Linked DNA regions of Homo sapiens: region 2 is linked to region 1. The links come from fine-mapping of genetic effects on gene expression. A gene starts in region 1. The other region holds a variant in brackets. All regions are shown on one strand. Distances are between the middles of the regions. Region 1 holds the start of MRPS27 (mitochondrial ribosomal protein S27). Region 2 overlaps MAP1B (microtubule associated protein 1B).

Region 1 (12,075 bases):
TTTCAGTGACAGAATCATTTCAGTGTCATCACAGTCTATCATTCTCCCTTGTCTTTGTATCTGATCAACCGTGGGGACAAAAACCAAAAGGAGGCACCTCTTCTTGTCATCAATAAGGGGCTTTATTCCCACCAAAATGCGGGGTGAAAAGCAAAGCAGGCACCAACCAAGCATCTGCTTTCCAGAAGGCAGAACTGTTGTCAGTATCAGAAGCTGCCAGGAAATAGCTATAGGATTTGTTCCAAGAACCCAGAGCTTTGAAGGAATGCTGCTGAAAGGAGAGGCACAAATACATCTAAAACACAAGAACTAGAAGCAGAGGCACTGTTCTCAATTTAAAAGAAAAGACCTACTAGGTTTGAGATAATGCAGTGGCTCTTCCAATTTTTATTTGCAGAACCATGTAACAGTTAAAGGCTCTAGAGATGGAAGGACCTGGGCTGAAATCTAAGCTCGGCCACTTGCATTCTGATGGAGACCCTTGCTCTGAGACTTGATTCCTCATGTGTAAATTAAGGATCGTGGTACCTTCCTCACAGGGTTACCTGAGATGATATATGTAAAGCATTTGTCATTCGGTAACTGCCAGTAAATAGAAACATTATTGTTCTCATTTTCATTCCTTGTGTCACCTGTTAGATCTAAGAGGATTTAGTCTATTAAATATTTCTAAGCAACTTCCAGTCTAAAAAGTCTCAAGTCATCAAAGAGATGACGTTACATCTTGTACTCCTTAATCCTCCTTAATAAACCTTAAGAGGCCGGGTGCAGTGGCTCAGGCCTGTAATCCCAGCACTTTGGGAGGCCAAGGTGGGTGGATCACTTGAGGTCAGTAGTTTGAAACCAGCCTCGCCACCATGGTGAAACCCCGTCTCTACCAAAAATACAAAAAGTAGCCAGGTGTGGTGGTGCACGCCTGTAATCCCAGCTACTAGGGAGGCTGAGGCACAAGAATTGCTTGAACCTGGGAGGCAGAGGTTGCAATGAGCCGAGATCATGCCACTGTACTCCAGCCTAGGTGACAGAGCAAGACTCTGTCTCAGAAAAAAAAAAAACAACACCTTAAGAATCCAGTATTTCAACAGATATAACTTGTGTTTTAAAACAAATCAATCAACATTTGTTTATCATATAATCATACTCGGAAGTATCCTTCTTTGTGTGTGAGACACCAAGAAGCGTAAGGAATAGTTCCTGCCCTCAAAGAACTTAAAAGCATTTTGGGGAGGGCAAGCTAAATTTATACAAAGCTACCTGAAAACAATGATGGAGGAGGTGACACATGAATACTATAAACATAATAAGACTCTTCTGTCCTGTTACGACACCTATTACAACTCAGAGTGGACAGAAGAGTCCTGTTACAACCTTTACTATTATGACTCAGAACAGACCAGGTTGGTGAAAGTGGAGGGGTACCAGTGAGAAAGGAAAGGGCTGAAATCAGGTTGGAGAAATGGAGGAGGGGGATATTCTAGGTAAGGAAATCAGCATGAGCAACAGAACAGAACTGGGAATGACAGGTGTGGAGGGAAAAGCTGTGACTAGATCAACCAGAAACCGTCCTAGAAAGGGCGGAGTCCATCACGGGAGAGCCAGGATGCCAGAGAGATGAGTATGTTAATAGTGTGGTATACAACAGAGTACCACTGTGGGCTCTCAAAATGATGAAAGGTTGACAGGACTTTAAACATATCAGTCTGACAATAGAGCAGATTGGCACTGATTATATTAATTGCCTTTCAGAACATGTACACAACTGCCACAGACTTATGAAGACTATGACAACTGGAAATCACAACTGGATGACATGAAGCCCTAACTGCAAACCTCACATAGATCTAAAATACCTGGGTAGAAAGAAAAGACTGAAGTGAAATCTAGATTGAGCCTACTCAACTGGGGATAAATATATTCCCCCCATTCCAAAGGTTTATTTTTTTGCCCCCTATATGGTATTATATAACAGTATGATTAGCGGAGCAGCGAGAGAACATTGATTTCTGGAGGACTGAATTGTGAGGGAATGGAGGCAGAAAGTATCAGGATGGGTGCAGTGGCTCACGCTTGTACTTTAGGAGACTGAGGCGGGATACTAGCTTGAGCCTGGGAGTTCGAGACCAGCCTCAACACAGTGAGACCATCTCTACAAAAAAAAATTAAAAATTAAAAATTAGGCGGTATGGTGGCACTGTAGTCCTAGTTACTCAGGAGGCTAAAGCAGGATTGCTTGAATCCAAGAGTTTGAGGCTGCAGCGAGCTATGATGGTGCCAACTGCACTCCAGCCTAGGTGACAGAGCGAGACTGTCTCTTAAAAAACAAACCAAAACAAAGAGAATGTTAATGTGTTAATCAGGAGCTCACAAACATCTGGCAGTGAGAGGAAGGAGAGCTGGGTCTATGGTTGAAAAAGTCAGTAGGGACACCAAGAGTTATTAAAAAAAAAAGGAAAGTCTTAGATGTGTTCATAAAGGAGGATCAAGGAGGTATATCCACAACCCCCAGGGACCACTGCTGCATCCACACACAATAAAAGGTATGAAATGCTGGGAAGAACTCTATGTGCAGGAGGGAGAGAATGAATGCACAAGATTTTTCAGGTGCTGAAAGGGAAAAAGACCTAGGGTGGTGTTCTTGTTTGTAGCTTTTTATAACAAAAATTTTCAAACATACCCAAGAAATGAAAGAACAGGATAATAATCCCCCTCACTAAGTGCCATTACCCAGCCTCAATCATTATCAATATTTTGCTAATTATGTTTCCTCTACACTACAATCCTCAAACACACTGGATTTTTTTTCAAAGCAAATCCCAGATTTATCTTTTTTTTGAGACAGGGTCTCACTCTGTTACACAGGTTGGAGTGCAGTGGTGTGATCATGGCTTACTGCACCTTAGACCTCCCAGGCTCAAGCAATCCTCCCACCTCAGTCCCTGGAGTAGCTGTGACTACAGGCATGCACCACCACGCCCAACTAACTTTAAAAAAATTTGTAGAGATGAGGTCTACGCTGCTCAGGCTGATCTCAAACTCCCTGGCTCAAGCAATCCTCCTGCCTTGGCCTCCCAAAGTGCTGGAGTTACAGGCATGAGCCATCATGCCCAGCCAAATCCTAGGTTTGGTAGTCAGGTTTCTCTTGTTTTTTAAGAAATTTTTGATCCTACTGACTTTTCTAGCACAGAGTGAAAAATACCAAATGTATCATCACACATAGTACTGTTTTGTTTCATTTGATTTCATTTATATATAGATATGTTTGTGTGTACTGAGATGCAACATAAAATGCATTTTTCACTGAAGGTTACATCAAAAAGTTTGAAAGCCAATCATCTGAAGTTTTTAAACTTTATTGTGCATATGAATGATCTGGGGCCTTTCTCTCTGCACTTCTATCAACCACCCAATAGATGCTGATGCCGCTGGTCCTCAAACCTCACTTTTAATGGCACAGATTTAGACAAGACCAATCGCAGCACTAGCTTTAATACTTCTCTGGGATCGTAAGAGAAGGAATAAGAGGAGAGCTGTAGACGTTGTAGCAGCAAAGTATGAAATGCAAGATAAATATAAGAGTTCACTATGAAACTAACAATAAATGGTCTCAACTTTTTCTAAGGCATAATAAAGTCACTGAAGGAGACACTGAATAGGGATAAAGACAGAGAAACTTAAATGACAGATAAATGACAGAATTAACAAAATAGATTCTATTACCTTTAGTGCCAGAAAGATTACATGCAACAGCCACTTTCTTTTGTTGAAATTCTTTTAATTTCACCACATTATCTGTAAGTAGGTATCTTTTAGCTAAAAATCAGAGAAAGAAAAAAGTAAAGTCATTTTGACTGTTTTAGAAGTTAGCAAATAACATGAATAGAGCTGGATTACCTCTAACATCTATTATAGATAATCCATTAGACAGGTACAAATATAACTGTACAAACTGTACAAATATAAATCCTGGGAAAAACAATTTCTGAACTACCAGAGAATGCAAATCCTCAGCAAAACAGGTTTTATTTGTGTGTGTGAAAGAAGCTAGTGATTAACCGTAGCTAGTGATAAACCTGTGTGGGGACTGGTTGACAGGAAGTTGGGATTTGAAGTACAAATGGGCATTTGCCATCGGTTAAGGGTATCAAGGGCATTTAAAAAAAAAACTAATAACATTTAAATGCAAAACAGGCATATTTAGTTTTGGTTTATCCAGGGAGAAGCACAGTGTAGTGGAAAAAGCTGCAGCATGACCACTGGAACTCCCAGTTTTGTCCTCTGTGAAATGAGGGGGTTAAGGCCTCTCAGATGTGGACTCAAAATACATTTGAGATACATGGAAATCATTGATCACAGCTTAGTAGATTTGGGAAACATCATCCTTTCTTTAGGATCCTTGGCTGTGCATGAGATAAAACGGACCAAGCGTGGCCGAAGAATCACGCACTAACAGAGTTCTGTGAGCTGCAGTAACAAGGTAACAATAAAAGTTGCTATTTATTTACAGAAAGGCAGTCCAGTGAAGTGGTTAGGAGCAGGTTTCTATTGTTGGGTGTGTTCAAATCCCACCTCTAACAGTTCCCTCTGACTTTGGGCAAATTACTTAACCTTGTTCCTCCTCTGTAAATGGAGAAAAGAATGGTACTTCTCTTGCTGGGTGTTGTCTAGAGAAAAGGAATTAATGTATGTAAACTACATTAAAGTAATGCCTGACAAACATTTTTACTATCACTCACTAGCATCTTCAGATTTAACTCTCTTCATAGAGATGTTAGAGGATAGTTTTGAAAAATGAAGAAACGTGCCGTTAAGTCTTTTAGATTGTTAGCAGAACTGAGACTCCATAAGACCTCTGCTTCCAAACTCTGCAGAAAAGAAAAAGGCCGGGCGCGGTGGCTCACTCCTATAATCCCAGCACTTTGGGAGGCCGAGGCGGGTGGACCACGAGGTCAGGAGTTCGAAACCAGCCTGGCCAACATAGTGAAACCCGTCTCTACTAAAAATACAAAAAATTACCCGGGCGTGGTGGCGCACGCCTGTAGTCCCAACTACTCGGAAAGCTGAGGCAGGAGAATCGCTTGAACCCGGGAGGCGGAGGCTGCAGTGAGCCGAGATCGCGCCACCGCACTCCAGCTTGGGCGACAGAGCAAGACTTCGTCTCAAAAATAAATAAATAAATAAATAAAAGTCACCCAAGGCGGGAGGGATGTTCCTGAAGACGAACGTCGCCCCATCTGAGGGAGCACTACAGCCCCAAGGTCAATACCCCAGCAGTCCTTCGATTTGCAGGCACTGGGGGTATCCACGACCCCCAGTGGTCACCACTGCACCCACGTGCAACTAGAGGGCGAGGGTGCGCTCCAGGCCAGTGAGTGACTTAGGAGCTGTGGCTGCTCCACAGAGATGCTAGCTGGGATCTAACACTCCCTTCTCTCCCATCCCTCCCCTCCTTCCCTAGGCTAAAGCCGCGGATACCTCCGAGAGGGCAGCGGCAGCTGACAGAGCCGGAGCCTCCCACCCCAGGATACACCAAAATCTGCAGCGCCTGCAGGAGAACTCGATTCGAGGGCCGAAATGCAGCAGCCATACTGTCTCGGACCATACCAACTACTGGAACCGGGGCGAGGAGGCGGAGCGTCGGTCCTGTCGTCGAGAGCGACAAAAGGGATTCGTCCAATTCTGGGCGCCCCGAGAGGTCGAGCTGTAACCCCGCCCCTTCCTCTGTCCGTAACCCGTTGGCTGTTCCTTTTGGTACGCTCCAAGATGGCTGCCTCCATAGTGCGGCGCGGGATGCTCCTGGCGCGGCAAGTGGTTCTTCCTCAGCTCTCTCCTGCAGGTTGGCCGGACAGCTTCATTAGGCCCCTGATTATTCTGTTTTTTGGGTGAAGGGAGCGGTGGGCTTTCAAGAGGAGAGGAAACGTTTCTGGAATCTGATTGCTAGGGACGCCATTTGGGGTGTTTGGTAGTGCAGAAGAAGGAGACAAGGTATCTGATCCATTTCCTTCCCTAAAATAACAGTATGTTCCTGTCCAAAGGTACGAAGAGCAGTGGAAGGTTATATAGCATGAGGGAATTTGCGTATGATTCGCCAGATTTATGTGTTGGGGTGGTCGTGCTTTTGCTGACCACGAAAAACCCAAATGTGCGCCGGGCGCGGTGGCCCACGCCTGTGGTCCCAGCACTTTGGGAACGCGAGGCGGGCGGATCGCCAGGAGTTCGAGACCAGCCTGGCCAACAGGGCGAAACCCCATCTCTACTAAAAAATACAAAGAAATTATCTGGGCCTGGTGGCGCGCGCCTGTAATCCCAGCTACTCGGGGGGCTGAGGCAGGATAATCGCTTGAACTCGGGAGGCGGAGGTTGCAGTGAGCAGAGATCGCGCCACTACACTCCAGCCTGGGCAACAGAGCGAGACCCTGTCTCAAAAAAAAAAAAAAAAAAAAAAAAGGAAAAACCTAAATGTGTCCATTCCTGGGGCTGGGACATTTTTCTCCCATCTGAGGTTTCTTTAGAGGGACGTCAGATAAACATTTTTCCCACCACCACACATTTAGCTGGACCCCTGGTCTTCGTGGAAGAATTTTTCAGTATTAATCTCATTTTATCTGATGACCTAGAGCACAACTTTTGATTGACCTTTCTTTGCTATAGTTTTCCACGTGTAGATAATAAATGCTATTAGTTACTTGTAAAATACTTTGATATCTGAACTAAATGGCAGCCCACTCAAAGCCTGCATAGTGGATCTGATAATGAAAACATTGGAAAAAAGTTTTAAAGTATTTATAGAAGCCAAATTTGCAGTGATTCTAACCACATAATCCAGACAGACATATTTGATAAAAATGCAATAATCACACTCGATTTTTCCATTGCCGCTTATCTTCCCTTTCCAACCTACCTCCCATCCTCTATTTTTTTAAAAAGCACGCACTTCTTTAGGAACAGCCATTAAACGTCAATGTGAAACCTCAGAGTTGGCCACCAGTTTTCTGAAGATTAAGTGGCTGACCTGGTGAAAACGTTTAATGTCACACATTAGGCAGTGTTATGCACAACGCTTGACACCTTAGTAAGAATTAGCTGTTGTAGCTATTTTCTGTTTATGTGGTTTCCGTGAACAACTACACACAGAGGGCATTTTGGGAGACCTGTCTTTCCCCACAATCACCTCCCCAGCCTTTTTTTTTTTTTTCGGGTTTCGTTCTTGTTGCCCAGGTTAGAGTGCAATGGCACGATCTCGGCTTACTGCAGCCTCTGCCTCCCGGGTTCAAGTGATTCTCCTGCCTCAGCCTCCCGAGTAGCTGAGATTACAGGCATGCGCCACCACTCCCGGCTAATTTTGTATTTTCAGTAGAGACGGGGTTTCTCCATGTTGGTCAGGCTGGTCTCTAACTCCTGACCTCAGGTGATCCACCCGCCTCTACTTCCCAAGGTGCTGGGATTACGGGCGTGAGCCACTGTGCCCAGCTGGCCCAGCTTTTTAATCTCCCAGTTCAGAACTCTTGAGCAATGATCTAGATATTGTCCTGACTCCAGAATGTAGAAAGGTGATTACTTATGCTAGAATGAAGCATATGCTAGAATGAAGGCATAGAGAATAACAGATAATAAATAGAGAGTAAGCAAGTAGCTGGTATGCGGGAGTACAGTTGGCTTCCTTATCCGAGCATTCTGCATCTGCAGAGTCAACCAACAGCGGATCAAAATACTACAAAACAAAACAAAAACTAACAATAAAAAATAATACAACAGTAAAATAATACAAAGAAAATACAACATGACAACCACTTACATTGCGTTTACATTGTGTTAGGTATTATAAGTAATCTACAAATGACTTAAAGCAGCTTGTCCAACCCTCAGCCCAGGACAGTTTTGAATGTGGCCCAACACAAATTTGTAAACTTAACTAAAATATTAGGAGATTTTTAGCATTTTTTGTTTTGTTTGTTTGCCCATCAGCTATCATTAGTGTTAGTGTAGTTTATGTATGTGTGGCCCAAGACAATTGTTCTTCTTCCAATGTGACCAGGGAAGCCAAAAAAATGGACACCCCAGCTTAAAGTAATGCAGGAGGATGTTTGTGGGTTATTTGCAAATACTGTGCAATTTTATGTAAGAGACTTCTGCATTCTCAGATTTTGGTATTTGAGGGGGTATTCTAGAACCATCCCCCTGGGGCAGGAGAATTGCTTGAACCCTGGAGGCAAAGGTTGCAGTGAGCCAAGATCATGCCACTACACTCCAGCCTGGGCAACAGAGAGATACTCCATCTCAAAAAAATAATAATAATAAATAAAATTAGGCCGGGTGTGGTGGCTCACACCTGTAATCCCAGCACTTTGGGAGGCTGAGGTGGGTGGATCACCTGAGGTCAGGAGTTTGAGACCAGCCTGGCCAACATGGAGAAACCCTGTCTCTATTAAAAATACAAAATTAGGCGTGGTGGCGCATGCCTGAAATCCCAGCTACTCAGGAGGCTGAGGCAGGAGAATCGCTTGAACCTGGAAGGCCTCCGCCTTCCGGTTGCAGTGAGCTGAGATCATGCCATTGCACTCCAGCCTGGGCAACAAGAGCGAAACTCCATTTCCAAAACGAAAAAATAAATGGAAATTAATTTAAATAATTATAGTCTTTTCTTAGTTCTCCTTTTGAAAGCGTCTTTGGAAACCTTATTGTTGCCTCATTATTTAATTTGTAGAACTCAAATTTAGATATATTATTCTAGTAAAGATCTGTGTTCACAGTAAGAGAATGAACTGTGTATAAATTCACACAGATGTGTTTGTATTTGTTTATTTGTTTGAGCTGGAAAGTAGGTAGAGAATAAAAACAGCATTCCAATACTGTGTTTAATCAGCCCCCATGCTATCTAGTTGTGTTGGGCTTTTGGTCTGCTGTGACCTCAGCATAATTATCTGTCATTTTTTCTGTTTGTTTTTTTTTTTTTTTGAGACGGAGTTTCGCTCTTATTGCCCAGGTTGGAATGCAATGGCGTGATCTCGGCTCACCACAACCTCCACCTCCTGGCTTCAAGGGATTCTCTTGCCTCAGCCTCCCAAGTACCTGGGATTACAGGCATGCACCACCACGCCTGGCTAATTTTGTATTTTTAGTAGAGGCAAGGTTTCTCCATGTTGGTCAGGCTCGCCTCGAACTCCCGACCTCAGGTGATCCGCCCACCTCGGCCTCCCAAAGTGCTGGGATTACAGGCATGAGCCACTGCACCTGGCTGTTTTTCTATTTTTTTAAACAGAGTTATTGAGGTATAATTCACATGCCATACAATTCATCCATTTAAAATACACAATTCAGGCCAGGCATGGTGGCTCACGCCTGTAATCCCAGCACTTTGGGAGGCCAAGGCTGGGGGATCTCCTAAGGTAGGAGTTCGAGACCAGCCTGGCTATTATGGTGAAACCCCGTCTCTACTAAAAATACAAAAAATTATCCAAGCATGGTGGCAGGCGCCTGTAATCCCAGCTACTCTGGAGGCTGAGGCAGGAGAATTACCTGAACCTGGGAGGTGGAAATTGCAGTGAGCCAAGATCACACCATTGCACTCCAGCCTGGGCAACGAGCAAAACTCCATCTCAAAAACAAACAAAGAAACAACAAATGCAGTATACAATTCAAAGGTTTTAGTATAAACACAGAGTTCTGGAGCCATCATCACAAGCTATTTTAGGACATTTTCATTATCCCAAAAAGAAATTCCATGCCCATTTGCAATTGCTCCCCATTTCTCCTCTAGCTTTCCTGATCCTCACCTTTAGCCCTTAGCAACCATGAATCTACTTTCTGTCTCTACAGACTTGCCTATTCTGGATTGCTCATATAATGGAATCATATAATATGTGGTCTTTTGTGACTGGCGTCTTTTTTACTTAACATGTTTTCAGGATTCACCCATGTAGTATGTATCAGTACTTCATTTTTTATTGCCAAATACTATTCCATTGTAAGGATAGACCACATTTTGTTTATTCATCAATTGATGGATATTTGGGTTGTTTCCACTTTTTGTCCGTTATGAATAATACTACTGTGAACATTTGTTTACAAATTTTCTGTGGACACAAGTTTTCATTTTTCTTGGTTGTAAACCTAGGAGTGGAATTGCTGGGTGATAGAGTAACTCCATGTTAACATTTTGAGGAGCTACCAAATTCTTTAAAAAGCAGCTGCACTGTTTTATGTTCTCTCCAGTAAGGTATGAGTTTCTGGTTTCTCTGCATCCTCCCCAGCAGTTGTCATTATCTGTTTTTTGATGGTGGTCATTGTAGTGAGTATCATTCGTTTCTCCAGGTGATTTTGTTTTGCATTTCTCTAATGGCAAATTATGTTAAGCATCTGTCCTTATGATTATTAGCTATTTGTGTGTGTATACATATATATTTTACTTTTTCTTTTTTTTTTTTTTTCGAAACAGAGTCTCACTCTGTTGCCCAGGCTGGAGTGCAGTGGCATGATCTTGACTTACTGCAACCTCTGCCTCCCGGGCTCAGTCGATTCTCCCACCTCAGCCTCCTGAGTAGTTGGGACTACAGGTGCATGCCACCATGGCTGGCTAATTTTTGTGTTTTTTGTAGAAACGGGGTTTCACCATGTTTCCCAGGCTGGTCTTGAACTCCTGAGCTTAAGTGATCCACCCACCTCAGTGTATATATGTTTTTAAAGGTATACCTGTTTAAATCCTTTACCCATCATTCATTTGGGTTGTCTTTTTTTTTATTTTTGAGTTGTAAGATTTATTGAAATATTTTGGATACAAGTCTTGTACTAGATAAATGTTTTGCAAATATTTTCTCCTGTTCTTTGGGTTGTACTTTCACTTTCCTGAGATTGTACTTCAAAGCACAAAAGTTTTAAATTTTGATGAACTTGCCATTCATTCTTTCTCATTCACTCCTTGAGCTCATGTTTGTTAAACACTGCCAAAGGCTAGGCATTGTGCCAGGAGCTAGGAATAGTGGTATGCTATCTTGTACGTTACCTCAGCTTTGGCTTTGTGAGTTTCTTTAATTTACCACTAGGGTGCTGGCTCATTGGGTAAGATACTACTCCTTGCTTTATGTGAAATGATTGAAACCTGTGGATCTAAGATGAAAATGTTTTTTAGGCATAATAATTATAAAGCATTTAATTAATGAGTTAAGCAACAGTCAGCAGGTGTTTTTGGTTCTAAGAAGGTGTTCTAGGGCTTGCCTGGATTATAATTTACTAGCAACAAGTGGCTCCTAGTCTTAAAGTTATAGGAACAAAATTAGCAGTTTTATCCATAAAATTATGGGCATAGCGCAGTGGTATGTGTCTGTAATGCTAACTACTTGGGAGGCTGAGGCAGGAGGATCACCCAGGAGTTCTGGGCTGTAGTGCACAATACCGATCAAGTGTCCACACTAAGTTTGGCATCGATAGGATGATTGACGTTCCAGGAGCAGGGAACTACCAGGTTGCTTCAGGAAGGGTGAACCAGGTTGGAAACTGAGCACATCAAAATTCCTGTGCCGATCAGTAGTGGGATTGTGCCTGTGAATAGCTACTGCATTCCAGCCTGGGCATTATAGCAAGACCCTGTTTATTTTATTTAAAAAATTATTGTGAAAATCCTGTTTTTCTGCATCTTCACTTGTTAGGGGTTGAATGCATTTTGTTCTTCACTGAATTGTCAACTATGCGATATTGGTTGCTGTACTGTATTAGATTATTTAAAATATATAATCTAGTAGTTGAAAGGATAGTGAAGATATATTTAATAAAACATATAAAATGAACCTCTTGTAAAACCATGTGTGTTGAAATAATTGCCTATTTTCTCAGGTAAAAGATACCTGCTTTCTTCAGCCTATGTAGACAGCCACAAATGGGAAGCAAGAGAAAAAGAACATTACTGTCTTGGTAGGTACCTATTGGACTATTATATGTGTCATTTTCGGTCACTCTGTATGTCTTCCATCATTTATTCATATAACGTATATATGAAATTATGCTTTTATGATGTTTCAATTCAGATAAGCATGTTTTAAGTCTTAAAGAGTTAGACTTTTATACATGGCAAAATCAGTTTTATCC
Region 2 (12,075 bases), 130 kb after region 1:
AAGGAGAGGACTCTCGTGGGGTGAGTGGAGAGATATCAGATTTTGGAGAGAGCTTCTCTCCTTCCAGACTTTGCACTTTTTCAGAGGTGAGTGAGGCATATAAGGACATATCTCTGGGAGGAGCAACATCGGATAGAGTATCTTCTTGGAGAGGAGAAGCGATCTGAGAAGGGGTATGAGCAGAAGAGGTGGACGGGGAGGCCTCTACCTGAGATACTGAGATGAGCTCAGAAAGATCATTATCTTGGGTGTAGGACGGCTCCTCCATAGGTGGTATCTTATGTGATAAACTGGAGTCCTGCATGTCAGAAGGACTGTAGTCCACTTCAGTTGGCCCATTTTCAGTGATGTGAAGCACGCCTGCACCCACTGTAGGGTGATCTGGAGACTGTCGACTGAAGTCCATAGCAAGGGATTGCTCAGGAGATTCTTGGCCAAATTCAATAGACATTGAGGACTGTTCAGATCTGTGATCTTGAACGGGTGTCCTGGACTTTGCAGTTTTAGGGGAGAAATCTGGTGGAGAAATTGACATCGGTCTTGGGCATTCTTCTTTAGATGGAGACATTTCTGTTTCCTGGAATGTGGTAGGTGTTTGCACAACAGACACTGAAAGGGAGTCATCTACTTCTGTGGAATGTGGGGAGCCAACCTCAGCATGCAGAGATGGAGACACATCATCTGTTGTTGGCTCTGGAAATGAGCTCGTAGCCACTGAGGCTGTGGACACTGAGGCCACACCCTCCATATGAGAGTACGTGTCTTCTGCTACGCCCTCATCAACAGGAGTAGCTGACTTGTCTGAGACAGTACCTTCAGAAATGGACATCTTAGTGTCTTCTTTAAAAGATCCAAACTGACTGACATCTATTTGTGTGGGAGAAACATCTCCTAATTTCCTTTCATCCAGAGCCAGTGCTGGTTGAGAACTCATGGCTTCAACATCATCAGTTTTCTTTTCTTGGCCAAAGTCTTCTTTTATTGGTGCAAAGTCTGTGCTTTTCCCTTCCTGTTTGTCTTGGTAAAGACTAGTAGAAGTCATTTCAGAAACTGGACTTACTTGGTCTGGAGAGCCTTGTTTTCCACTCTTTTCTTCAAAAGGACTTTCGGCACCTCTGCCAGAAGCCTTGTCATCAGCACTTAGAAAACTTTCATAAGCAGACTCGGATCCAATGAGGGGCGGGCTGCGTAAAGGAGACAAAACTTTTTCAATAGGAGACTCTGAGTCAGGCACGGGCTCATCCATGGGGCTTACTGAAGCCCTTTCATTCTCATCTTTGGCATCACTGAATTCAAAACTCACTGGAACTGCTGGTGGTTTTTCAATGACTTCTGTAGGGAGATGACTGGATTTCTCGTCAGTAGGAGATTGATAGTAAGGTGTGTGACCAGCACTGCCAGTCACGGACTGAGATGGTGACACCACTTCCAGAGTCTTGTCCTCAGGACTAGCACAATGTTCTTCAACTACTTCTTGGGTCACCTCAGGAGACACCGGGGCTACTTCTGCCTCTGCAGAGACTTTAATCTCATTGGGCGTCAGAGAGAAGTTCACACTACGTTCACCCAGGGGGGTCTTTTCTAAGGGTGATGGTGGAGATGGACTCAGGGACGGGCTCTTCGATGGGCTGACCTTTTCACTTGAAACAGCTGAGATGCTATCTTTGATGTCCAAAGTGGTGCTGGCTTTCACTTCAGAGCAGTAAGCATCACGTAAAGCAGATCTGCTGAATTTGTCTTCCTCCATGGAAGAGGGTGGTGATATGGTAGAGGCTGAAGCATTGTAATCCTTGCCATCAGTGGCATCTGTTTTTGATCCTTCAGAAAATCCGTTGAGCGGTGTAACATCAGCAGGTTTAGAGTATTCCTGAGAATACAATGAAGATTCATATTTGGTGATATTTACGAATTCCTGAGAAGGGGACTCCGTCTCTTCATTGTTGGTCTCATCACTCATCACGTCTCGAGGGGTAGACATCTCATCCATGGGGGTGGGCTCACTGGATATCTCAATAGTAGACTGAGTGTAGCCAGAGGTGGCAGTGAATTCCTCAGGCTGGTCTTCTCGATTCTCCTCATCAGAAGCGGTGGCCTCGCTCTCTGAGCCTCCAGGTAAAGTCTCATCATGAATTGAAGATGCAGGTTCTCGGCCAGGAGACTGGGCTCCTAGTTGCTTGGTTGGTGTGGTGAGGAATCCATACTGCTCCTCGGCACCACCAGCCTCTGCAGCCTTGTCGACCACAGCCATCACATAGTCTTCAGCTTCCATTTTTTCCGGCTCATATTCCTCCTCTCTGGCATCTTCAGCTTTGTCCTCCTCATCAGCCTCCTCTTCAGATTGTTCAGCCTCTCCTTTCTCAATGGCCTCATCCATGTCTTCTTCGGCTCGGTCATCCCCACTGGCCACAGACTCCCTCTTCTCCCTGATGTATGCATCAGCCTCCGCCTTGGCACTTTCCTCATCCTCAGTGGGGCTGTGCTTGGAGGCGCTCACACATACGTGTTCCTCCCCATCCTCTTCTGGCTCCTCAGCCTCCTCAGTTTCTGCCTTCTCTTCATAGTCTCCAGTCTCTGAAGATTCTTCAAAACCGGCTCCTTCATCTTCAAATTTTTCAATGTCGTCTACTCCCTGCTTCTCGACGGGCTCCAGCTCCTCAGGTGTCTGTTCACATTCGCCCTCCCCTTCAGTGGTAGTGATTCCCTCATCAGGGGACTCGGCAGGACCTTTGGTGACTTCTCTCTCCTTCTGGATGACGTAGGCTTCGACTGGCTCAGTTTCCTTCAGTTTCTCTTCGTCTTCGATTAGCTCCAGCTGAGGCTTGATGTCCTTTGTTACATCGACCTCTTCAGCCTTTAACTCTTCAAAGTCCTTGGTTAGATCCTCAGGAGATGACATAAGGGACCTCTCAGCTTCGAGTTCTTTGGCAGGGCCAATGGCTGCTATTCCAGCTGCCGCCATGACAGCTGCTGTGGTGGCTCCAGTGCCGACAGCTGCAGCGACAGCCTCTGCGGCCTTGCCTTCCTTCTTAATGACTTTTATTTTCCCCTTCTCCTTTGGCTTTCCGGCAGCAACAGAATCTTTCTTGACAGACTCTTCCTTCTTGGGTACTTTTGGTTTTAAAGCAGCTGGTTTTTTTGCTTCAGACAGAGGAGTAGATGATTTCTTTGCGTCTTTAGGGAGCTTCTTAATTTCTTTTTTGGGTTCCTTTTCTTCCTTTTTCACTTCCTTCTTCTCTTCCTTCTTAACTTCCTTCTTGACTTCCTTTGGCGGTGTTTCTTTCTTAACCTCTTTCTTGGGTTCTTTTTTCTCTTCTTTCTTGATCTCTTTTTTGACTTCTTTTTTCACCTCTTCCTTTTTTGGTTTTTCCTCCTTCTTGATAGGTGTTTTGTCCTCCTTTTTAGCCACTTCTTTCTTTGGCTTTTCTTTCTCCTCTTTCTTGTCTTCAGGCTTTACCTTTGTTTCCTTTTTCACCGTCTTCTCCTTGGCAGCTTTGGGTTTGACATCTGTGGCTTGCTTCTCAGCCACCTCGGCTTTCACTGGAGATGGCTCTTCTTTGCTGGGAACCTCCTTTTCAGTCACTGAAGGTTTGGTCTCTGTTTTTATTGGCTTGTCTTTTTTCACCATTACCTTTTCTTTGCTTTCAACTTTGGGTGGCTTTTCCACGTGATTCACTTTTGTGACCTCAGGGGTTTCTTCTTTTGACTCCTTGCGCACGGATTTGCTAGGAAGTGGTTTTGCGGCTGGCTTCAGACTTTCTCGGCTATCAGCCCTCTGTTTCAGTTTTGTTTGTTTCACCACAGGAGTGGGCACCTGGCCAGTGAGATCCTTTTGGGTGGCCAGTGGCTGCTTCAGAAAGTCTAGATGTTTGAGCTTTTCCAACCCTTCCAGGATGTTGTACTGGGTGCTGTTCCCAGGAAACAGGACTCGGATGATTTTCTCCGCAGGGTTTGCTGGATGCCACACAATCAAAGATGAGACTGAAGTTAAGTAGGAAATCGGGAGATCTACTTCTTGACCATTAGGCAGAATGAATTCAGCCTTGTCTTTGTTGGTACCAGTCCACTGCTGCATAAAATACTGCATTTCCTTGCTGCTCTTGACTGGATTAAGCACATACATCTCAAGTTTACCTACTCCCATTTTTTGGAAAAGAATGACAGGATCAATAGTATTGCCTACACTTCTAAACAGAGGTTCTGGTTTCATGGACAATTTGTTTAGGTACTGGAGAGTGAAGCAGGCTTCTTCTATGCTTCTCTTCATCTTGATGTTTGGCTCTGGATTTTTGAGATTTTCAGGTACATTGAGAAATACAACTCCTAAGTCAGGGGAGATGAGGTTTTTCATCCAGTCACTATTTGTGGTGGAGCCCTGGGACTGTTCTTCCTCGAGCTCTGCAATTTTCCGCTGTAACATGCTGTTTATTCCAGGCAAATTGTCATCCCCAATGTGGGTGAGCAGGATGGAGTCCACTCGGTCTAAGTGTCGGATGAGCTTCCAGAAGCAGGATTTTCTCTCTGATCCGCCATTGATGAGCATATTGAAACCATTCACTGCAAACAAGGCAGAATCGCCCCTCCCTCCTGGAAAAATATAACAGCAGGGCTTGGAGAGCTTCAGAAATCCACCCGATGTGGGAGGTTCCAAGATGTCAAAGGGAGATGGGACTTCCACTGATTCTGAGAGATACTCGGTAAACTCAGAAAGTCCTTCCATTTCTGGCAAGATAGAAGCTGAATTGAGTTTAATATTGATGAAGTCTTGGAGATTGTGTCTGTCAAGATTGGAGTTCTTCCAGTCCCCTTCTTCAGGACAGAACAGGGTTAAGCTGGCTTTGTTGGCAGGATGGGTGGTGCTTAGTAACTCCCCGATCTGGGTTTTAAAGAAAGAAAGAAAGAAAGAAAAGGTGTAAGTGATTATCATCACTGATCCATCATCTCCAGCTATAACTATGTGTTACAGGATCACAGGATGCACATAGGACCAGTTTCAGACATGCACTCTCATAGTGATGTTGGTTGCTTAAATGCTGAAATACTTCCCTACTGGAAGGTGAACAGCCTTTGTCCTGAGCCCCGCTGCTACTGGCTTCTACCTCAACCAGTACCCACTCGCCCTGGCACCTCCCCAACAACCCCTCCACCATCTATTCCTGCCCAGCAGGGGAATGCCAGTACTCTGCTCCAGTTCTAACACCAGTGACCACCTGGGCAACTGAGGATTGTGCTGCAGTGGTTATGAAACACTTTGAATATTACCCCTAGAATAAAGGCAAAGATGCCCTTTAAAAAAAAACGTTAAACTATCACAAGAGAAAGCTGTCTGGGTCATTTCACCACTAATAAAAAATATTTTCTTTTATTCCACTAGACTTGGCAAAAAAAAAAAA[A/T]AAAAAGGCCTGATGGATACCTTAAAGAAATTCAGATTAACAGGGCACTTGTTGTGGCCTCCTTTCAGGATCTGGCATGTAAAAAAGAAAAAACCTTGGTGGGTTTTTCCCCATAGGAGACAAGAAGTTACGGATTGCCTATTACTACAAAAAATTACTGGTTTCTGGCATCAGTGCACGCTGATTGAAACATGAGTGGGTCACCCAGCATATTCTCTGCAGATACAAATACTTTTTTATTAAAGCCATGACATTAAAGTGGTTTGGCCAAGTTCGTTCCCCATTTGCTCATGTTTAACTCCACAGTGAGCCACTCTGTTCTCTTACTGCTCCCATTCTTTTCAGGGCAAGTTGGGTGTGAGCAGCTAAGATCAAATGTGGCTGAAACATTTTTCAACACATTGTTTAGTACTTCCCAAGGATGTAAACATAGAAAAGCAAATCAGGACCAAAACAGAAATTGTGGTTTAATAAAAACACTACTTGTCTCTCTCACTCCATATTATGGCCATATATTTCATGGTCTTAGCCTAGCAAATTAGTGATGGAGAATCATGCCATCAACTCCAATATTCTTTCCGTCTCAGTAAAGCTCACAAATCAGCTCAGAGTTTCGACTGAAAAGGGCTCTGTATTCTGGATGACAAATGATCAAGGGGTAAAGCCAAGGTTTCATTTGGTCCAGGCATCCCTGAGCCAGCAGGTCTGAACTCTTACCTTCTAGTATTAGATTAGTTTCCTCTATCTCCTGACTATCAGCATTCTGAGGCTACTATTATGAATGTGTGTAAGAATAATTTATAGAATCTGAGTTTTCCTATATTCGACTGCAATATTGCAGTAAAATAGTCATTTTTGTTTTGTTAGCATATTAGTCCTAAGCATAACATTTTATGTAAAGGGCCGCAAAATAACAAAATAATAAAACTTTGCTGTTTTTCTGTGACTTCACAATTTTCTGTAAAAAGGATAAGAATCAACTCCTGTTTTTGGGAGCTAAGAAAAGTGAAAAAGCAAATGGTAATACCATCTTTGGGTAGAGGGGACAGGCATCTTTGCTCAAATGATTTGCTGGCCAAAGCAAACATAGGGCATCAAATATGGTTTTTTGTACAATAGTTAGCAGAGACTCTCATCACAATCACTATAGCACAATTAAAAGTCTCTAGATCCCAATTTTCACACAAAGCACATGCAAACTATTCATGTTTTATAATATGTTTTAGGGGGCAAATCTAGAATAACTGCTGTATCTTTAATAGTGAAACTTAAAAATTAAGTTTAGTTCATTTTAATTTTTGAAATTCCACCCTAGCTGAGAGGTGTGGCAGCCAAGGGTATAATCCAGCTGTGAGTAGGGGGCATTCAATCACTGGCTCTTTTTATGTAAAGTATGTAATTACCAGGTTGAAGCAGAAGGTAGAAAGACTTAAGGAATATCTTCCTACTTTCCGTCTTTTCACCTCTATCCAGAGAATTTCTATGAAATGCAGGAAATGACCCCAAAACAAAACAAGATTGCACAGAATTCTGAGAAGTCAGAGGTCATGAAAGATAGCCAAGAGACACTGGTGAATGAACAACCGTGATGTACAAGGCAAAGCAGAAAAGAAAGCCAGCATTGCTTTGACAGGTTTCTTTCCAGAGAAGGAAAATCTGGTCCCTCTGAAGAAACAGCAGCACATTCTGAATGATGAGACAAGAATGCAGAGACAGGGCTGGACAGAGCCCTCAGTCATAAAACAGACAGATGGAATTGGGCAGAGGGAGGAGGAGGAAGAACAACTCCTACATCCTTGGAACTACACAACAGAATGAAGCCCGTGTTTTCCCCCACAGCCTCTTTCCAGACCTGTGGGCCAACAAGCACAGTAGAGAGTGCCTCAAGGGCAAAGACAGGGTCTTAAGAGTGGCCAGCCCACGGCAGCACCTGACCAAGCTTATTCAATGAATAGATGAGAACCATAAGGAGGATCCAACAATGTTAGCAGTGGCAAGGAAGCTTGTGACTAGTTCTTAGACTTGGAAACTGAGGCTTCTTCTGAACAAATTGGGAAATCATCACCATGATAAATGGTAACTATTATAACCCACTACTCTAAACATTTCTGATAGCAGGAAATATATCTTCTGTATCTTTGTATCTTAGTTATCTTTGTTTCCTCAATACATAATCAGGCTCAGTAGATGTTTGTTGATCTGTGTGCCAAACTTGGCCAGTTCAACACATGTTATCTTCCTGGAGTGGGTACTTCAGATGTAACCACACTGAGTGCTACCCTGGTTCTTACAAAGTTGGATGACAGATGCAACAAGGAGGAATATGCTTTGGGACAAAGATAATCTTTTTTGTTAATTACTTTTTCTGATTAAATGCAGGCATACTGGAAGAGGAAGGAAGATGTAAGAAATAAATGGTTTTACTGCAGATGAGATTAATGAAACAAGATTTGAATTTCTAAACCATGGCCTACGAACTACATTTCCTTTTTGATTAGGTTACTTGCTTGGCTGATGAGGAAATACAGTAGACAGTGTATCTCTGGGTTTTAGCCAGACATTTAATAGGACCCCTGAACAGTGTGATAGTAGAATTAGGTGGATTTCCAGCCAGCCATATAAATAGTGCTGCTTAATGTCAACCTGGAGGGAGGTCTATGATGGGCTGCCTCAAGTCTCATTTTCTGGCCTGTATTCACTTGGATAAAAATGGCGAAGGCATGCATATCATATTTGTGCATGGTATGAAAATGGGAGACACAGCAAAATGTGGAATGGCAGAATTAAGGTATTTATAAAAGCTCTTGACATTGGGATGATGGTGGCTAAGTCAATTCTAACAGGATGGCATTCTAAAGGGATAAATGTAAGGTTCAATAAACCAGCAGGGTAAACTACAGGATTGGGAGATGTGGCTTAACAATAATATCCATGGAAAAGACTCAGGGATTTTAGTTGACAGTCAAATGGATTTATCATGAAGCCAAAGAAGCTTAAACTTCAAGGTACCTCATTGGCATGGCCCTGTACTTAACTGTATATTAATAATTGTTTCATTTTTCTTAAAAAAGAGCCCTTAAATTATATAAATTGTCGAGCCCCTCAAAGCCTGCATCTCTTCCCCATTGACTTCCCCATTGACCATTAATGGTGTATGGTGATGGTCAAAAGTCACTTTTAGACTTCTTTAATAGAAGATGGTATTGAAAACTATAGACATTATCAACTCTCACAATCCTAACCTGGTCAAATGACTCCTGAATAGGGTGTCCAGTTTGAGTCATGACATTTTAGAGAAATTAGACCAACAAGCAAAAACCTGAAACAAGTCTCCCTTACTGGCTCCTTCCTCTTGGCCTTATGACCTGTCAACACTGGACCTGGGCCCTTTCTCTTCTTAAAATGTTTCTCACTCTAGGTCACATCATGTGTCTTCTGGGCTTCAAATACCTCTAATATGCTAATGGATTTCAAATTAGTATCTCCAGCCCGACTCTGAGTTCCCTGAGCTCTGTTCTCATAAATCCAACTGTCTGATTTCAAGGCACTAAAACATGACCAGGACTAAACTCCTGAATTCCCCCCATACCCATCCCATCTCCTCTTCTTTTTATTTTATTTTTTTAATGTTTTAAGTATAGTTTTTTTTTTTTTAAGAGACAGAATCTTGCTCTGTTGCCCAGGTTGGAGTGCAGTGCAGATTATAACTGAGTGCAACCTAGAACTCCTAGCCGCACGTGATCCTCCCACTCTGGCCTCCCAAAGTACTGGGATTACAGGCATGGGCCATAGCACCTGGCCTTCACCTCCCTTTCTTGACAGAGGAACAAGTTTGAAGGACAGTGAGCAGGGTTATGAAGAACTGTGGGTAAAACTGAAGATGATTAATCTGAAAGGGAAAAAATCGGCAGTGTTGGTGAAGGGTAACTAAGACACTGTAGGTGGGAAAGGGATCACATCACTTCCTTGAAGATACAATGAGACAAATAAGGAAAAACTTTCCAACACAGAGACTGAAAAATGTCCCCAGGAGATGATGATTTCACCATCCCTGGATTTCAGGGAGGAGTGGGGTTAGCCAGACAATTGTACCGTCTGTTAGTTCTGGTTTTGTTAATTGATCTCCAGTGATTAAGACTCCAAAACCTGAAGCTCAAAGTGTACTGATAGTTCTATTTTTTCAGTCCATTTATTTTTAGCTGTTCTTATATTTTTTAAAAAGTATCATTTTTGTTTGTCCCAAATTGTGGTTTTGGTTTCCCTGGAGTTAACTAGTATGTTTCAAGGACTGGATAAAAGGAAAAGAGCTGGACAACAAGTGGTCTTCAAGGTCCGTTTGTTATTCAGTTACTCAACCATTTTTCCAAGGCAACAATGGGCAATCCTAGCTCCAAAAGGCTGATAACCACTGGTCCAGTCCAGTGGTTTTCAATTCACTTTAGCTGTGGCATCCTTTCTTTGTGGGTGGCAGAAGAGAATATGACATGGTCTCTGACCATAATGATACCTGCCTGAGTATAATCAAAATATGTGTCCTCCAGAACCTACCCCAATAAGTATAAACCCTGGGGAATCTGCCCTTCCACGGAACTCGAGTTCTTCAGTTAGGGCAAATTTTTTTTTCTGTAATTAGTGGCAAAATCTGACACGTGCACAGTCCATGGTGCTAAAATTTTGCTTCCATAATCTAGTAAAAATGATTAAGCAGCAATATTCATAACAACCTTATTTAAAGAAGGGGAAGGAGGGATATTATTTGAGATGCAAATATGCCAAATCGTGTTACTTCCTTATTGAAAATCTTGGCAATGACACTTTTCTTTACATATTTCCTTTGTCTGGTTTTTCGGCAAAAAAGACAAACCAATGACTTGGGTAGAAACCAACCACTAGAAAATAACTACAGAACTGCACAGGAATGTGGAAAGTGCCCATGTGCATGCAAATGAGCTATAAGCAGGCCACTTAACTGCTCACCATGTCATTGGGCCACTTCCAGCCTTCTGCAGCTTTCTCTCTTCCCTGAGGCAAGATGCTAATAATGTGTGTGACCCCAGAGCTACTAGACAAATGCCCACCTGCCTCCGGGTACAACATGCACATGGGGACATAATCTTGCAAAACATTCTGACATTATAGTGATCAAACAACAACTTCAGGACAGTAGGCAGAGTGAGAATTGTAGCCCTAGCTTTGGAATTTCAATGCAATTGAACAGCGGCTTACTAGGCCTTTACTATGTGCAGGTGCAATGGATACCGAGATGAATGAGGCAAGATGCGTGAACTCTAGCGGCCTTGGAAGAAGACACAGCCAAAGCTTGCATTTTGAAGTGGTAAAGATGAACCAACTGTGAGTGAGCTCTGAAGCCTCTGAGAAAGGAGCTGCCTGCCTGGGGGATCCCATCCTGGTATGTGTTTCAAGATGCAGATGACGCCACACCTTCTGACAGCTGTGGCTTCAAAAATGTTCCTTTTCACAGTTTTACATTCTCCCCACCCCAGTGGCTGGAGAGTGAACATTATTATGCCTTCTGATCAGTGTTTTTAAAGAAGCCTCCAGGTGACTCAGATGAAGTTGGGCAGTGTGCTTACAGTTCTTGCCAGTGATGAAAAGTACAAACAGAGCTTTCTCTGAACCTCAGGGCCAAGGAAAATTAAGTGCAGAAGGACACGTGGCCCTTCACAGTACACATGAGACAGACAAGCCACCACCTCAGAAAGACAGTTTTAAACAGATGTGGGGACTCTTCTTATCAGAACATCCCTCAGTCCCTCCATGTAGAAATCTGCTATCGGCCACAGGCAGGCCCCAACCTGCTATGGGGATGGGTCTGAATTGTTTCTGTAATTGCTATAAACATGTAAGCTAGATAAACAAGGTGCATTACTTTGGAAAGTTTCCCAGCCAGGATAAATTCCCAAGCAGAAATAAGCATATCAAAATCTTTGATCTCATTTTACAAAATACGACTAACTTCACACAGTTTTCAACACTTTATATGTGTCATCTTTGAATAAGATACGCATTAGAAATATGAATGATCCAGCTTCAGTCCAGCTACTTTAGCCATCTTTTTCTTGGGTCACAGACGTGCCCCATTTTCCTACGTGGCTCCTTTTGTAAAGCCCTCTCTCTTTTGTGGGCTGTTCAAACAGCCCAAGTTCAAACACTGGGGCCAGGCATTAAAGTAAAAGAAATCTGAAATAATTAGGCCTGGAAAACGAGGTGCCAAAAGCCCCAGATATCTTTGGAGTATTATTTCAGAAAACAGGAAACGCAGGTTTTCTTTTGGGCTCTGACATTTCAAGTTTCTCCATCATTTTTACCATCTGTAAAGTGTTGACTGTTCCAACCCCTCCCATCTATATCTCAGGCACATTAAGAATGATTCCAATTAATTGTAAATGAGTGCTCTAAATTCTTTTGGCAATGAGCCATAGAAATAAAGTATTTTGGATCATGCAGTTTTGCTTATTTCAGGAGAGCTGTGAGGTTCCCTCCCTTCTTCTTTTGTCTCCCCCAGTGCTCTCAAAGAGGAACCTAAGGCAACCAAGCCACTAGAAGCACAGATATTCTCAGACACGAACCTACCTCTTGATCGGTGAAAATCTCTATGAAGTTCTGGAAGGAGAAAGAGCCGGACTGGAGAATGAGCTCTCCGGTATTTTCAAAGCACTGCCCG

What was found. PIP is the estimated chance that this variant, and not a neighbour inherited with it, causes the effect.
Region 2: its variant is the best candidate, but not a certain one, in a credible set for the expression of MRPS27 in whole blood (TOPMed, PIP 0.54).

Annotation. Positions count from the first base shown.
Region 1 is chr5:72,313,907-72,325,981 of GRCh38, reverse strand. MRPS27 (mitochondrial ribosomal protein S27) reads left to right here and starts at 5,742. Exons shown (of 11, transcript NM_015084.3): 1 at 5,742-5,833; 2 at 11,824-11,901. The coding sequence starts at 5,761. It overlaps PTCD2 (pentatricopeptide repeat domain 2), which reads right to left and starts at 5,609. Exons shown (of 10, transcript NM_024754.5): 1 at 5,473-5,609; 2 at 3,718-3,810. The coding sequence starts at 5,599. It also overlaps the pseudogene RN7SL153P. RefSeq lists enhancers at 5,411-5,620, 5,681-6,010, 5,609-6,149, 6,150-6,691.
Region 2 is chr5:72,186,664-72,198,738 of GRCh38, reverse strand. MAP1B (microtubule associated protein 1B) reads right to left here. Exons shown (of 7, transcript NM_005909.5): 4 at 11,985-12,075; 5 at 1-4,873. Among named protein-coding and RNA genes, the nearest start is that of MIR4803, 23 kb to the right of the region's middle. RefSeq lists an enhancer at 3,756-3,845. The variant A/T (reference allele first, on the strand shown) is at 5,391.